2 separate regions of the Homo sapiens genome follow, and region 2 is linked to region 1. Evidence: fine-mapped expression QTL. A gene starts in region 1. The other region holds a variant in brackets. All regions are shown on one strand. Distances are between the middles of the regions.

Region 1 (8,329 bases):
TCATTGTAGTGGTCATCATTCTTGTCGAGACTTCACTGCTTTGTGTATAGCATCAAACTGTGCCCCACAGAAAGGGATACAAGTAAATAATTGTTTAGCACCCTGTAGTTTACAAAATATTTTCATGGGCATTATCAACTGATACCACCTGAGGATATGGATGTGTTAGCCAAAATTTAAAGGAGGGTGTAGCGTTAGCTCATATCATACAGTCAATTTAATGAAGTGGCATCAAAATGTAAAACCATTTCATGTTCACAATATGAACAGTAGGCCTTCCTTATCCCGTCCCCCATGCCATCTCTGGGTCTTACCCATCCCTCAAGTTCACATTAGAAGGGCAGGGATGCTACTGAGCACTTATCTTAGGACTGCAAAAACAAGTAGAAATGTGTTTATGCATTCATTTATTGATTGCGACAGAGCAAGACCATCCCTACTATCACCATTGTCATCATCACCATCACCATTTCTATCATAATCACCACCATCATCCTCCTCCTCCTCATCATGTCCAGTGTAAGCTGGAGTGTAGTGGCGTGATCTCGGCTTACTGCAACCTCCGCCTCCTGGATTCAAGCGATTCTCCTGCTTCTGCCTCCCGAGTAGCTGGAATTACAGGTGTGTGCCACCACACCCAGCTAATGTTTTGTATTTTTAGTAGAGGCGGGGTTTCTCCATGTTGGCCAGGCTGATCTCGAACTCCTGACCTCAGGTGATCCACCTCTCTCAGCGTCCCGAAGTGCTGGAATTACAGGTGTGAGCCACTGTGCTTGGTCTATTTTTAAAGTAGTATCAAAATGTGCCCACATGAAAATGTCACATACTCATTCCTCAACCAAGAGGTGCCCCAGCTGGGCCCTTCCTCTTCTGCATGGACTTACAATATCTGGAGGTAGGCAGCTCCTGAGGATGTGCACCCCTGAGGCTGGGAAAGGTGGTCCTAGCTCTCCAGAGTCAAACTATAAAGAATGGCCCCCATCCCTAACACGTACTCAATTTGCAGGGCATCCAGGCTCATGCCTTGGCCACTGGGGGCCTTGCCAACCTGGAACAGACAAGAGGCAATCAACATTAACAGAGGCTTTCTATTTAGGCATTCTAACCAACATGCAAAAAGCCAAGAGGGCTGCAGGCTTACAAAGCTTGACCTTATAATTTATGGTGCATGTGGTATGAGGGAGTTCTGAGGCATTTTTACACAAGCTGGATGAAAGGATGAGATGTCTCCAGCTCCCCCTCTTCTCCGCCCACATTCCTGACCATCCAACACACTTTAGCAAGGAAAAGGGATAGAGGAAACAAAACTAGGAGGAAAAGCAGAAGAGAAACTCCTCTAGATTCATGCTGTGCTCAGAAACTGGGGTAGGAGAATGGAAGTCTCCAGGAAGAGCTGTTGATCCCTTCCTGCTCTGGAAGATGCACTTCTATGACTGCCCACCAGCCTCCTCCTCTGGGTGTAACCGAACACCATGGTGGAGCCACACTTCAGAGAAACACACTGCTTGCTTTTAACGTTAAACACATCCTAGCCTGTGGTTTGTGAGCCACATATGGTCCTGGGAGCCCCACGAAATAATGATGAAAGAAAATCGTTGAAATCTGGACACAGAAGCTCTCTGAAGCTATACTTTTCCTCAGTGACTCTGCAAATTGTATTAGCTGTCCAATATTCACTGAGCATTGCCATATGCCCAGTATCATATGGTGTCTCTTGTCTAATCCGCATAACAGCAAGGTTGTTCTTTTTTTTTGGGTGGAGTGCAATGGTGAACAGGGCTCACTGCAGCCTTGACTTTCCAGGCCCAAGTGATCCTCTCACCTCAGCTCCCCAAGTAGCTGGGACTACAGTCACACTCCACCATGCCTGGATAATTTTTTTTTGTATTTTTTGTAGGGACAGGGTTTTGCCTTGTTGCCCAGGCTTGTTTTGAACTCTTGGGCTCAAGCAGTCCATCTGCCTCGGCCTCCCCAAGTACTGGGATTATAGGTGTGAGCCACCACACCTGGCCTAGTGAGGTAGCAATTACTCCTGTCTTATAGCTGAAGATACTGAGGTTCAGAGAGGTCACACTCCAAAGTCAGTCATGGAGCTGAATTTGAACCCAAGTCAGTCTATTCTATAGCCTGTGTCTTAACCATTGTATGTACTATCTCCCAGAGGAAAAGAATGAGAGGGAAATGCTGAAAATATTAACAGTCCCATCGTCCTACTCTCTATTCATTCATTCAGTGCTCAGTAGAGGTAAAAATTGAGAAACCGTCCATTCTCATATCTGGCCTACAGTCTGCTTTTTTTTTTTTCCTGAGACAGGGTCTTGCTCTGTTGCCCAGGCTGGAGTACAGTGGTGCCATCATAGCTCACTATAACCTTGAACTCCCAGGCTCAAGCGATCCTCCTGTCTCAGCCTCCTGAGTGCCACCACATCCAGCTAAATTTTTTTTGGTGGAGTCAGGGTCTTGCTGTTATCTAGGCTGGTCTTGAACTCCTGGCCTCAAGTGATCTTCCTGCCTTGGCCTCCCATAGCGTTGGGATTACAGGTGTGAGGCACTGTACTTGGCCTGGATCAATTTTTAAAAATTTAAATATCATTTAATTATTTTTGATAAGGATCAGATGACTATTTCTCTAAGAAACGGATTAATAATAAGACAGGTCCTTAAAGATGCACCTTACAGAAAGGGTGACCCTGAAATCTAGAGGAGTTTAGGGATACTTCTCAAGGTCACACACTTTGGTAGCACTAAAGGAGTAGGGCTCTTGCTTTCAAGGCCAGATCTTGGCAGCAAGCTGCTTTACCAGTTATCACTGCCTCTGCCCCTAACATGGAGAACTGCTTGAAGGGGGATAACCTCTTTTTGCGCGCTAGAGATTTTAACAACACAACCCGAACTCAGCTGAATAGTTTTTAAACAAGGTTCCTGTGATGAGTGTCTTCTGATTTCTTCTGCTGTCTCCCCGCGCCACAGGTCAGAGACCTGTGCCCTGTTGAACCTAGAGGCTCCTACAATAGCTCCTGGTATTTAGCTGAAGTAGGGTGTTCCTCTCTGTCTGGGGCAGATGGTTGTATTTCTAGTCCAGAACCTGCTATAATTTACTCTGTCCTCCCACACTAATAGCGATTCTTCTATCTGCCAGCTTGGCTTCTATAGCCTTCTGCAATCTGGACCCGCTCCACCCAGTTCATCTCTTTCTTCTCTACATGTAGAACACACCCTCATGGCCAACAGGTGTCCTGGGCTCACCCCATTTCCGCCACAGAAATATCCTCCCTGCTCTCCTCATATGCAAATCATTCTTCAAGGCACTGCTCAAGGTCTTTCTGCCCCCAAAGCCTGCCCATGTACAGGCCAATGGTTTGCTTTCCAAATCTCTTTACATTTATGTTCCCAATTTACCTAAGTTAGCCCTCAACAGGTTTCTGTATATATCTCCAAGTGTAGTGCAGGCTCCTTGAGGGCAGGCACACAAGTGTTCATTCATTCACTGGAGGCTTTTAGCAACACCTTATAAAGCGAGAAAGAAGGAGAAATATAAACTATGGTTGCTTCCAGTCCTCAGGGAGGGGAGACATACCTGGCACACAGTGGGCCCTCAACAAAGGTTTGCTATATTGAACTAACATATATGCCTCTCGTTGCAATTACTTGCTAAGTCCCATGAGAGGTATCAAATGGTGTTATAGGGAAAGCATCATCAAAGAGGTGGCATTTGAACCCTATAGGCTTTAAGGGCAGGGCATGGTTTTGTCTTTGTTTACAGAACTGGGAGGAGGTTACAGACAGAAGAAACAGCATTCCTACTACACACAGTGCCAGGTGCACACAGTGCCAGGCACACATCACTCACCAGAAACTGGGGAAAGCAGTGGAATTGAGTGAGTTCTGTCCCTGCCCCGGCACCAATTAGACTGAGTGAGTGGGCAAGTTGCTTAACTTCCCTGGGCCCCCGTTTCCTTCCCATTCTGAAGTGATTAAGCTGCACAGACTTCAGAAAGAAGCAGACTGAGTGAGGTTCGAATGATGACTATATGTGACCTTGAGCCAATCCGAAGCCGGCTCGCTCAGTCTCAATTTCCTTCCTATAAAATGGGTAAAATAATTTCTACCTCACAGGGCTTTTGTGAGATTTCGAGAACATATGTGAGTCGCTAACCACACAGCCTGGCAATACCAGATTTCCTTTTACAAAAGTAGGGGTGACAACGCTGATCTGCCTCTTTCTGTGTGGCTGCTGCTGCCTCCGCAGCACCCATCCCAGAGGCTGTCAGGAGTAGGGGCCGTGGACAAACTTCATGACCCCGAAAGAGAAAACAGAGCTGAAGGGGCTTCGGGGGGAAAAAGTAAAGAGCTGGCCACAGCAGGCTAACTTGGCTAACGGGGACACTTGGTGAATGCGTCCCCTTGAACAGACTTACCACAGTCGAGAATCTTTGCTAACTCGCATCAACCATGCCTCCCAAGCTGGCTGGATTTTGGACAGCCTTTTTTGTCTCCGCCTTCAAACCCAAGGCAAAGGACAAGGCCCAACCCCATGGCGGGCTGGGAGAGTGAAAGCAGGGGGAGTCCCCCAATTCCCAGCGGAAAGGAAGGGCGATCTGTTCCCACCCGCTGACTCCCACTCCCGGGGCCAGGGCTCCTTGGGCGCCCCCCTTCATTTCTCTCCTCTCCGCACAGGTCGGGAAGGGAGGGGGTCGCGCTTGGCCCGCGGCGCAGGTTCACCCCGGCTTTCGTCCCTCCGACCCCGCCTGGCCGCCCATCCCCGACCCCCGTGGACCCTGCTCGGCCGCCCCGGCTGGGGTCGATCTGGCCCTCCGCCCCCAGCCTGCGTGGAACCCGCCGGGCCGCCAGCCCCACCTCGGCCGCGTCCCCTCCCCTCCGCTCCGCTCTTCTCCCCTCCCCTCGCGGCCACCTCGGTGCCCACCCCGGCCTCCGCAGACCCCGCCGGGACCCCGCCCCGCGCCCAGCCACCCCCGCGCCGGCTTCCCGGCCCCCGTAGACCCCGCCCGGCCCTCCCTCTCCGGGGTCGTGGCGGCGGGGAGGAGGGGCCGCCGGGCCGGCGTGCGTGGCAAGCTCTCCCGGCTCGGCTCGCTCGGCCTCCCTTACCGGGAGGCGGGGTCGGCGCCGCGGCGGCGGAGGCAGGCCCCCTCCTCCCGCCTCCTCGGCCCGGCCTCCTTCCCCGGCCGCGCGTCCTCTCGCCGCTCCGACGCCAGCAGCGCCCGCGTGCCGCTCGCCCAGTCCCGGGGGAGCCCCTGCAAGTTTCCCGGGCCGCGCGCCGCGCTCGCTCGCCTCCCAGCCCGCGGCCCGAGCCGCCGCCGCGCCCGCCATGCCCTCGGCCAAACAAAGGGGCTCCAAGGGCGGCCACGGCGCCGCGAGCCCCTCGGAGAAGGGTGCCCACCCGTCGGGCGGCGCGGATGACGTGGCGAAGAAGCCGCCGCCGGCGCCGCAGCAGCCGCCGCCGCCGCCCGCGCCGCACCCGCAGCAGCACCCGCAGCAGCACCCGCAGAACCAGGCGCACGGCAAGGGCGGCCACCGCGGCGGCGGCGGCGGCGGCGGCAAGTCCTCCTCCTCCTCCTCCGCCTCCGCCGCCGCTGCCGCCGCCGCCGCCTCGTCCTCGGCGTCCTGCTCGCGCAGGCTCGGCAGGGCGCTCAACTTTCTCTTCTACCTCGCCCTGGTGGCGGCGGCCGCTTTCTCGGGCTGGTGCGTCCACCACGTCCTGGAGGAGGTCCAGCAGGTCCGGCGCAGCCACCAGGACTTCTCCCGGCAGAGGGAGGAGCTGGGCCAGGGCTTGCAGGGCGTCGAGCAGAAGGTGGGTACCCCCGGCCCCGCAACTGTCCCCATCGACTGCGGCCTCCGGACCCACGGCCGGGCTCCTTCGTGCTTCCCGACCGGCCCCTAGCGCTGCCTGCCCAGGCCCGGAGGCGGGAGCCGGCCGCTCCTCCTTGGCGGGCCCTGGCCTAGACATCCCACTCCACGCGGCCCCCTAGTTCCGAGGCAGTCCCCAGACCCCCTTTGTTAATGGCTGCGGAGGAATCGGCCCCGAGGGATGGGCCGCCGCGAGGATGCCCAGGCCCGCCTGGCAGGGTGGGCCAAGGGCCTGTCACAGGGCATTAGCGGTGACCTGTAAGGAAGCCGGCAGGCTCCGGGGAGCCCATTCTTTCTGCATTAGGAACCGCTGAATGGGCAGAGCTGTCTGAAAAGGAGGTTGGAAGGGAAGCCAGCGCATCCCTGGAAGCCTCAGGCAAGGCCCCACCTCAGCTCTGCCTGTGGGAGACATCCGAGCGGGGTTTTTAATAGACCCGGAGCTGGCATTCTTACTCATTTGCAGGTCCAAATGAAATACCATCTATCTTTAGGTCCCTTGTCCTGTATTGGACCAGCCTGCCCAGGTGGGCCTTTGACGTAGTCCTACTTCAGCTTTTTTGGGTTTTCTTTTGAGAGGGAGTCTGGCTCTGTCGCCCAGGCTGGAGTGCAGTGGTACGATCTCAGCTCACTGCAACCTCTGCCTCCCAGGTTCCAGCGATTCTCCTGCCTCAGCCTCCTGAGTAGCTGGGATTACAGACATGTGCCACCATACCCAGCTAATTTTTTATTAGTAGTAGAGACAAAGTTTCACCGTATTGGCCAGGCTGGTCTCGAACTTCTGACCTCAAGTGATCCGCCTGCCTCGGCCTCCCAAAGTGCTGGGATTACAGGCGTGAGCCACTGCGCCCGGCCCTACTTCCGCTTTAGGGGAAGAGGAGGGCCAAAAATACTAGATCATACTGGTGAATAATACTTCTAGCCACATTTATATGGTGTTTAGAATGCTTACTCACTCACATATTATCTAATTCTTATAACTACCCTGGGAGGGAGGACTAACAGTTTTGATTTCATTTCCCAGAGCAGAACATTGAGGTTTAGACAGAGGAATGAGTTGACAAAGTCCCCAGCTGGTGAGTGACAGACACACGAGAATGTCTAGGCCACTGCCCTGTTCGTCAAGGGTCCACAGGGGTCCATTTCAGGTATGGATGGACCCAACTCTCAAGGCGAAGGTGCTTAGCTTCCACCCTTCTGTGGTTTTTCCATACCAAGTACAGCCCCTTTGATCTTATTCGCCCTCCACTATGTCATTGCTCAATGAAAGTTGGTTGCAAGACTGAAACAAAAAATCCCGCCACTTCTGATCCCGGAGCCACTGCCTCCTTTTCCCAGCATGCTGTCTGTCCTGCCAAGTTGCTCTCTGCTTTTGTTGAGTGTGCAGGACCAGGAATTTCCTCTTAAGACTGGCAGAGCACGGCCGGGCGTGGTGGCTCACGCCTGTAATCCCGGCACTGTAGGAGGCCGAGGCGGGCGGATCACCTGAGGTCAGAAGTTTGAGAGCAGCCTGGCCAACATGGTGAAACCCTGTGTCTACTAAAAATACAAAAATTAGCGGGGTGTGGTGGCACATGCCTGTAGTCCCAGCTACTCAGGAGGTTGAGGCAGGAGAATTGCTTGAACCCGGGAGGTGGAGGTTGCAGTGAGCGGAAATCCTGCCAGTGCACCCCAGCCGGGGCAACAGAGTGAGACTCCGTCTCAAAAAAAAAAAAAAAAAAAAAAAAGACTGGCAGAGCAACTGGAATGAGTCAGCCTGCTAAACGCTGCAGGCCAAGGGAGGTGACTTTTCTAAGGGAATTAAGTAGGCAGTGCTGCTTTGCCTATCCTGAATGTCAAACCATTCTTAAAAAATAGACATACTGCTGGAGTATAATGACTAGCCTCTGTTTCTTCTCTTTCATCCTCCTACTTACTAGTCAATCATAATATTTATTAAAGTCTGACAGTTGCATGGCTCTGTGTAGGCTTTGTGGGAGGGTATGAAGGAGCAAAAGACACGAATCACTTGTGCAGCGCATAAGGAGGTGTCAGTTGAGGGTAACTCCTGTGAAAGTTCAGAAGAGGGAGGGTGTGGAATTTCGCCTGTATCCCGGTGGCCAGGGTAGTGCCAGCCATCTAGCTGGTGATCGATAAATGTTGAGAGAAGGACTGTGATGAACACCGTGGCAGGGGCACTATTTTGAGCATGTTTGAGAGAGAGGAGGTGGCTACCCTGCCAATGGCAGAGTCACATGTAGGAAATTGTGAGAGAGGGTGGGTTGGAAGTTGAGGCCAAAATAGGGAAGGTCTTGAATCCAGGTTAATTCTCTGTGCTTCTCCCTGCCCCTCACTTAGTCCCTTCTTTTTGCTTCTCACCCCTTCTCCATCACAGCTATGTATATAGATCACTTTCTTCTTTGGGGCTCAGTTTTCCCACCCACACAATGAGAAGAGGGCTCCATCCAGACTTTTAAGAATCCTCATG
Region 2 (8,329 bases), 22 kb after region 1:
TCTCTTTCTCAAAAGTAAATCTGCCTGTGTCCCCTCCCTGCGAAATCCCTAGGCTCTCCCCTTGGCCTCAGGAGCAGCCTGGCTCTGGGTCGTGGCCAAGAAGGAGCTTTCCGATTGCTCTGTCTTCCTGCCCTCCAGCCTCCTCTTCTGTGAACTCTGTTTGTAGCCGCCCTGATTAGCATAACTACCCCTCATGTGGCCCCTGGTTCTGTCACTCTTGGTGCCTTTGCACGTTCCCTGGATCCTTCAACCCAAACCACAGGCTGAATTTGGGAGCTCCTCCCACGAGAGCCCACACTCCAGGCTTCTTGTCTTCAAAGTGCTCCTCTGTCTGTATCATGACCGCTTGCTTCTGGTGTGTTCCACATGAGAATAAGGCTCTGTCTTTCATCTCTGCATCCACAGAGATCATTGTGCTTGGCCCACATCAATAATAACAGAAATAACTAAAATTTATTGAGCATTTACTATGTGCCAGACACTGCTCTAAAGGTTTTACGAGGATTATCTCATTCAATCATTATAATAGTCCTAAGGGTAGGTACTATTGGCCTCTCCATTTTACTGATGGGGAAACTGAGGTACAGAGCGATTCAGTAACTTGGACAAAGTACTTCCTAGTCATAGCTAGCAAGTGGGGTAGCCAGGTTTAGAACCCAATAGCTTGAGTTATTAGGTTGGTTCAAAAGTAATCGTGTTTTTTGCCATTAAAAGTAATGGCAAACCATTACATTTTAATGGTAAACCATTAAAATTTTGTACTGCTCTAGAACTGGTTTCTTTTCTTCACTTAAAAAGACATCACTGTTTGGGATTACTTTTTGTTGAGGTGCAACTTTGGTGCTTTAAGGCACACACATCTGAAATATATGGCTGAATGAATTTCTGCACACGATATCTCCATGTACTCACTACCAGATCAAGATATGCAACTTTTCCAGCACACCAGGGGCTCCCCGTGCTCCTCAGTCAATACCCTCTAACCTAACCACTATTCTGCTATCACCATAGAATATTTTGCCCATTTTTGAATTTTGTAGAGATGAAATCATACCATATAAGACTTGGTATTTCTTTTAAAAAATGACAGCTTTACTGAGATAAAATTCACATACCATAAAGTTCACCCTATTAAAGTGTACAGTTGTTTTCAGCATATTCACAGAAGGCTGGAAACATTCCTATCTGGATGAATCTTGCCCAGCCATATATTAAAAAAAAGTGTGAGACATAGTAGGTGTTCAATAAAGGGCAGCTGTTTGAGAACATACTGACTTCTGAACTGGACACTGCATTTGTCCTGATGGTCAGTAACTCAGAGAGAAAAAGAGAGGGTGAGGTGTAGTGGACGTTTTCTTCGTCATACCCCTCTGACTGGGTTCACAGAGGGAGGACCTAAAACCTCAGAGGCAGAGGGTTGAATTGCCCTTCCCCGTCTTCAGGATGTGTTTGGTCAAGGGATTGATTCCACCTACTGTCATTTATTATAAACTGGGTGCTGAGCTGCATTTGCTCAGCGGAGATGAGATGAAAGATGAAGTCTTCCTCTTTGAGAGGCTCCCAGCCAAACAGGGGACACAGACATGTAAATGGCACCATAATCACATGCAGGGTGACCTGTGCAGCGGTCAAGGGACCACATGAGGACTGCTGGGTCCTGGACATGTGTTGTTGCCTGCCCAGCATCCAGTCCTCCTTCATTTGGTGACCACTTCTCTGTTTTCTGTTAGGGAATCACCCCTTCCCCACTCTCAGTCCATTTGGCTTTGATGAGACTGACTGGGCTGAGTGCATGACCCAGGTTTGGCCAATCAGAAATCTGGTTTGACTTGTGCAGGAGGAATACAGGTCGCCATCCAGTCCATTGACTACTGCTGGAACTTTCTGGAAAGGGATGCTTTCTGCCCACCGGGACTGCCAAGCTGGATAAATGCCCAGGGCTGCTAAAGGCCACCACATGTGCAGAGTCCACTGAGAATGAGGCCAGCATAGAAGAAAACAGAACCAAGAGTCGGCAAAACACAGGTTCCTGAGGACATAGTTTGAACACCCAGGTCACTTGTGCTAGAGGCCATGTGTGTCTCCACAGAGCCCCTGAACACCACTGTGTCCCCTTTCCTGCGCACAAGGCGACATGCAGCCGTGGAGAGAATGGGCACAGCAGCGCCGCTTACGAAGAAAGAAAAGTGGAAACACCGAGAAAGTAGCTACAAGATCAGTAAATCCACTATCACTTGTTCATACAATAGACCTCAAAACGACAACAAAAAGGAAGAAATCCTAATCTCATATATCGTGGGGATGAATCTCACAACTAAAATGCTGAGTGAAAAAATAAGCTGCAGACAAAATACACAGTGTGACACTTCAGAAATTCCTTAATTCTTAAAACTAAGACATTTTACCGTGTAAAATAATACTATACATTGTAGTGAAAGTACCAAGAAATGACTAGGAGACCGAATATCCAAATTCAGATCATTTGATTTCTTAGGCTGAGTGGAGGCTACCTAAGTATTCATGATATCACTCATAATACATTTTTTCTCCTTTCAATATTTTATTATGAAAATTCAAACAGCAAAGTTGAAAGAATTGTCCAGCGGACACTCATATATCTACTACTTAGATACTATAATGAACACTTTGCTATGTTTGTGTATCACATATATATCCATCTCCCCATTTTTACAATTTTTTTGAACAGTGTCTTGCTCTGTTCAGAAAAATAAAAAAATATGGGGAGATGGTATATATATATGTGATATATATACGTCCAGGCTGCAGTGCGGTGGCCGATCTTGGCTCACTGTAGCCTCTACCTCCCCAGCTCAAGTGATTCTCCCACCGCAGCCTCCCAAGTAGTAGCCGGGACTAACAGGCGTGCACCACCACACCCGGCTAATTTTTGTGTTTTTGTAGAGACAAGTTCTTGCCTTGTTGCTCACTCTGTTCTTGAATTCCTGGACTTAAGTGATCACCTGCCTTGGCCTCCCAAAGTGCTGGGATTACAGGTGTCAGCCACCATGCCTGGCCTCCCCATATTCCTGATATCTTTTCATAGGTCAGAAATATTTTGTAATTAAACTTTTTTTTTTTAAAGGGGAAGAAACACATAGAGAAAAGCTTATACTTTTAATAGTTAAACTAGTACAGGTCAGAAAACAAATGACGCCTACATATATTACGTGAAGTGCTGCATTTACGCATGATTACTTTTCATAGTAATGATAGCTAAGTAGCCATGTGACAGGCCTTAGAAAGCTAAGGCTGAGAGAAGGCTCTAATCTAATTCTGTTGTTTTACAGATGGGGAGGCTGAGTCTCAGAGAAGTTGTTCACCCAAGCTCATACACTAACTGGCTAAGAAGACAGGGCCTAATTTCTTCTCTTATCCCCCACAATTTGTTTTGGCTCCAGGCCTAAGCACAGATGCAAAATGCTCAGAAGTAAGCGAAGAATCAGGGCAGTTGAGTTGCTGCAGGCAGCAAAACCCACTCTTGGCAGGAAGGGGTGTGGCAGCCTGGCCTTGCTGTGCAAGCCCCCGCGTGTGGCAGCGAACACTCAGGAGCAATACCTGTTGGGTAATGGGGCTGTGGGGAAATCCCGG[C/T]CTGTGTTCAAATAGCTGGTGATGTTGTGTTGAAAGAGGCATTACCAACTGGGTGTGGCTGCTGGTGTGAGGACACATCCTGTCCCACAGAGTCCTTCATGGAAACTCAGAAGGCTAGGTCTTTTTGTTTTCTTCCATTCACGGGTATGATCTTGGTTTGCACTCCAGGACGGAGTTCTCACATGGTGTGACAAGAACAGCAGGGATGGGGGAAGTCACCTGGAATCAGGACTCTGGTCCGAATGCTGGCCTGCCGGGCTGTGCTGCCTAGGATAATTCACTTTCCTTCTCTGGGCCTCCATCTGTTTTCCCATCTGAAAAGTGAGGGGAGATAAAGTAATCTTCATGTTCTCTTCCAGATCCAACTTTCCTTGACTTTAACCATTGCACAAGAGTCTTTTGGAGCCTCGGGTGGGCAGGAGGAGGCCTAAGGGAAAAAGGACTAGACAGTGAGCAGATCTCTAGGGGCCAGGGTGGCTTCTGTCTTAACCAAGGGTCTGTTTGTAGCTCCCATGGGGGCCGGCACACACTGGGTCACAATTAATGTTTTCTCATTTATTGGGGTGAAATGGGGAATGTTGGCCGGGCCGGGCTGACATCTTGGATAACCTCATGTGAAGACTATTCACTTTCAGAAGATGCCGGGATGCACCAGTAAAAAATCCAGAGCGGCTCAAGCCCCTGAACTTTCAGCTGGGGAATAGCCCCAAATCAGCTGACTGTGGCAGTAGGAACCCAGAGAACATAATTGAAGTGAGAATTTATTGCCATCTAGTGTCAGAGTCAGGGATCACAGGAATGATTTCTTCATTTTTCGCTCTTGTTCCAGAAAGGGGATAAAATCCAATTGTACCATTAAAAATACCAGAGAAATCCACTATTTAAAAGACCTATGTGTGTATTTCTCTGTGACATGAATGCTTTTGTAATGTGTATACTATCCTACTAATTAGCCCCTTTTGAAAACTTAGGTAATAAAGGGTTTTGTTTAATATGAATCTTTTGTTAGTAGAAGTTTAGATACCGAAAGACCTTTATCGTTCCTATGTCAAGCTAGTTAAGAAGTGCGCAGTGGCTCACGCCTGTAATCCTAGCACTTTGGGAGGTCAAGGTGGGCGGATCACGAGGTCCGGAGATCGAGACCATCCTGGCTAACACGGTGAAACCCCATCTCTACTAAAAACACAAAAAATTAGCTGGGCGTGGTGGCACGTGCCTGTCATCCCAGCTACTCGGGAGGCTGAGGCAGGAGAATCGCTTGAACCTGGGAGGCGGAGGTTGCTGTGAGCTGAGATCACAGCACTGCACTCCGGCCTGGGCAACAGAGTGAGACTCTGTTTCAAAAAGGACAAAAAAAAAAAAAAGTGCAAGTGGCGCCCTTTAAATAAGGCAAGTCAAATGTTGGATGCTTAGTCCTTCACTTAAGTAATAGTCACCCATAATTGTGTTTTGTGTTTGATGTCATGCTTTAGGTGGAACACATTTATCATCTCGCTTACCCTGACGATTATCCCAGGGAGTAAAAGTGGTTGTCTCTGATTTACTGATCAGACACTAAGAAATGGTCATTAATTTGCTCTGGGAGCACGCAGTCTGTGGTAGCAGCAGGACTCGGACTCTGTTTGTCTCTAATAAGGCCTGCTTTTTGTCTGTTAAACCATACTCCCTTTCCCATAGTAATAAAATCAGCTTCCCATAATGTCCCAGGATACAACTATGTACTTGTACTGTGTGTATAGTACTGGTGGTTAAGACACTGGGTTCTGGCCAGGTGCAGTGGCTTGTGCCTGTAATCCCAGCACTTTGGGAGGACAAGGCAGGCAGATTGCTTGAGCCCAGGAGTTCGAGACCAGCCTGGGCAACATGGCGGAAAACCCCATGTCTACAAAAAATATAAAAATTAGCCGGGTGTGGTGATGCATGTCTGTAGACCCAGCTATTCAGGAGGCTGAGGTGGGAGGATTGCTTGAGCCTGGGAAGTCAAGGCTGCAGTGACCCATGACGGCAGCACTGCCCTCTAGCCCAAGTGAGACCCTGTCTCAAAAAAAAAAAAAAAAAAAAAGATAAGAAATTGGATAAGTTGAGTTTTTGAGCCTTACTATTTGAGTTCCCAGCCATGGCATATTCTATCTGTCTGACATCGGGACAGTTACTTAAGTGCTCCGTGCCTCAGTCTCCCCACCTATAAATGCAAATGATGCTAATGATAGTGCCTACTTCATAGGGTTGTTGTGAGGCTTACTCCATCTGAGGTGCTTAGAACAGTGGCCATGACAGTGAAGTGCTCAATAAATAGTACTTAGAAATTGACTAAATGCAGGGAATTTGAAATGCCAGGCTTGTGAAATGAGCCCTTCTATTGTTGGCCTGCAAAATGTGAGTTTAGAATTTTTTTTTTGACAGGGTCTTACTCCATTGCCCAGGCTGGAGTGCAGTGGCATGATCATAGCTCACTTGCAGCCTTGACCCTCCGGGCTCAAGCGATCCTCCCGCTTAATCCTCTCTTGTAGCTGGAACCACAGGTGCACACCGCTACACCTGGCTCGTGTTTTGATCTTTTCATAGAGACAGGGGTCTCACTATGTTGCCTAGGCTGGTATCAAACTCCTCAGATCAAGTAATCCTTGCACCTCGGCCTGCTGAAGTGTTGGGATTACAGGCATGAGCCACTGTGCCCCGTTGAGTTTGGAATTTTGATTATGAGTGCCTTCAGGTGGGCCTGTGTTTGATTGTGAGTGCCTTCAAGTGGGCCTGTGTTTGATTGTGAGTGCCTTCAGGTGGGCCTGTGTTTGATTGTGAGTGCCTTCAGGTGGGCCTGTGTTTGATTGTGAGTGCCTTCAGGTGGGCCTGTGTTTGATTGTGAGTGCCTTCAGGTGGGCCTGTGTTTGATTGTGAGGTCTTCAGGTGGGCCTGTGGCCTCTAGATTCTCACATTTCCCACCACTCACTTGTGTCTGCTTCTCCATTCATTTAGGCCTCCTGTCTGGCTCCTGGAAGCATTTGGTGTTTTGATCCTTGCAGTGAGTGAGATGAATTACATGGACATTGTCAACCTGATGGAAACTTTGGGCTCTTTGTCGACCTCTTTTAAGGGCTGTGACTTCATGGCTTTGTACATCAAAGAAGATCTTTGGGTTTTCTTGTGCAATTTGGCTTCTCCTGCCGAGAACAGAGGCTCTTCTAGCCAAGAACTAAAGCCCACCATGGCAGTCCCTCCCCAGATTCTTCTGCAGATGGCTACTTTCCTCCTAGCCTTCACGGGAAGGAACCGGGGCTTGCTGAGGTAAGGAGGGGCACAGGAGAGAGGGAGTAAAATCTGCAGAGAGGCAGCCCACACACTCAACCCCTAGAGCCCCTCTGCAGAGAAAGTCTATGCTGAGGAGATGTCAGAGCCACAGGACAGTCCTGAAAATCAGGTGCCACTCAGAGGCAATTGCCATCCACTACCAGAAGAGGGCACTGTAGTGCAGCGGCCCGGGAGGGAGCAGCTGCAGCCGATGAAGGTTCTAGGCCAGACTGCATGGAAGTAGCTGGGACCTGCCGTTAAGAAGCTTGGCCCAATTTTTCCTGATGGCCCCTTCTAGCTCTGACATTCTGCAATCCCATCAGGAGAGAACTGGAATGAATCAGCCAAGAATTCCAAGTGGGTTATAGAAGGAAGAAACCAGAAGCAAGGGCTGGGGGAGGAGGTGGGTGTGGCTGGAAAGTTTCTTTTGTTGGGGGCTAAAATCTGTCTAAGTGAATCCAGCAGGAGGAAAAAAAAGCCTTAAAACAGCTCCCCTGGGGTCACATGCTCAGGTTGGGCAGCCTGTCAAACCACCCCAAGTCGACTGGAATCCAACATGACATTATAGCTCACTCCTGCCCTTGTTGGAGGAGTGCTTAATCCCAAAGAAACAATTAAAGTTACAGATAGCACACACTGGTGGTTTGCCCATCTCTGCATTTTGTAAAAGCAGAGCCTATTTTCTTTCTTGATGGAACTGCCTTCCAGAAATGGCTTGCTGCAGAGTCTGTGGTGGCCTTGGGTGCTCCTTGGCAGAGATGAAAAGTGAAGTCAGCAGGCGAACCCTTTCTGGCTTGGCTCAGGCGGCCACCGAACATGCCTTGTTATGCTTCAGAAACCCCATTGGCAGTCCCCTCACCTCCCAGCCTCTGACTCTGGGCAGAGTCTCTTTCCATTGGAGTCATTTCAGTGGGTGCTCTGGAAGACTAAGGGCTTGTCATTAAGAGACAAATGGGTATTTTCGATGGTTCTGGGTATTTGTTTCTCCACTGGCCTCTGATCCTGCCAGAATCACCTAGCACCACAAAGCCAGCACCAGAAGTGTGAGCGCTGGATAGGGTGGGTGAGACTTGTTCAGGGCCCTCCTACCTCACTTCCCATTTTCCAGACTATTCCTGCATCCGTGGCTGTGGCCCTCTTACCCGCTGTCCTGGTATTACCCTTGGACTTGTTTCTGGAGCTGGTGGGGGCAGGATAGCCTCGTGGCTAGAAACTTAGGCTCTGCAGCTAGACCACCTGGGTGTGTGACTTGGGGCAAAGCACTTAAACTTATTGCCTCAGTTCCTCACCTGGAAAATGAGGTGATTATAATAGTACCTACCTCATAGAGTATTCGTGAGAAGTAAATCTATAAAGTGCTTACAGCATTATTATCAGGTACCTAACAAAGATTTGTTGAATATATACATGCATGTCTATATTACACAGATTGATG

The links.
Region 2: its variant is fine-mapped to the expression of CKAP4 in whole blood (TOPMed, PIP above 0.99).

What each region holds. Positions count from the first base shown.
Region 1 is chr12:106,244,849-106,253,177 of GRCh38, reverse strand. It overlaps CKAP4 (cytoskeleton associated protein 4), which reads left to right and starts at 5,158. Exons shown (of 2, transcript NM_006825.4): 1 at 5,158-5,809. The coding sequence starts at 5,327. It overlaps LOC124903008 (a long non-coding RNA gene), which reads right to left and starts at 4,906. Exons shown (of 2, transcript XR_007063443.1): 1 at 4,419-4,906; 2 at 391-3,507. RefSeq lists silencers at 4,583-4,922, 4,953-5,262, 5,923-6,012.
Region 2 is chr12:106,223,033-106,231,361 of GRCh38, reverse strand. No RefSeq gene overlaps it. Among named protein-coding and RNA genes, the nearest start is that of CKAP4, 21 kb to the left of the region's middle. RefSeq lists a silencer at 6,976-7,085 and an enhancer at 7,136-7,185. The variant C/T (reference allele first, on the strand shown) is at 3,610.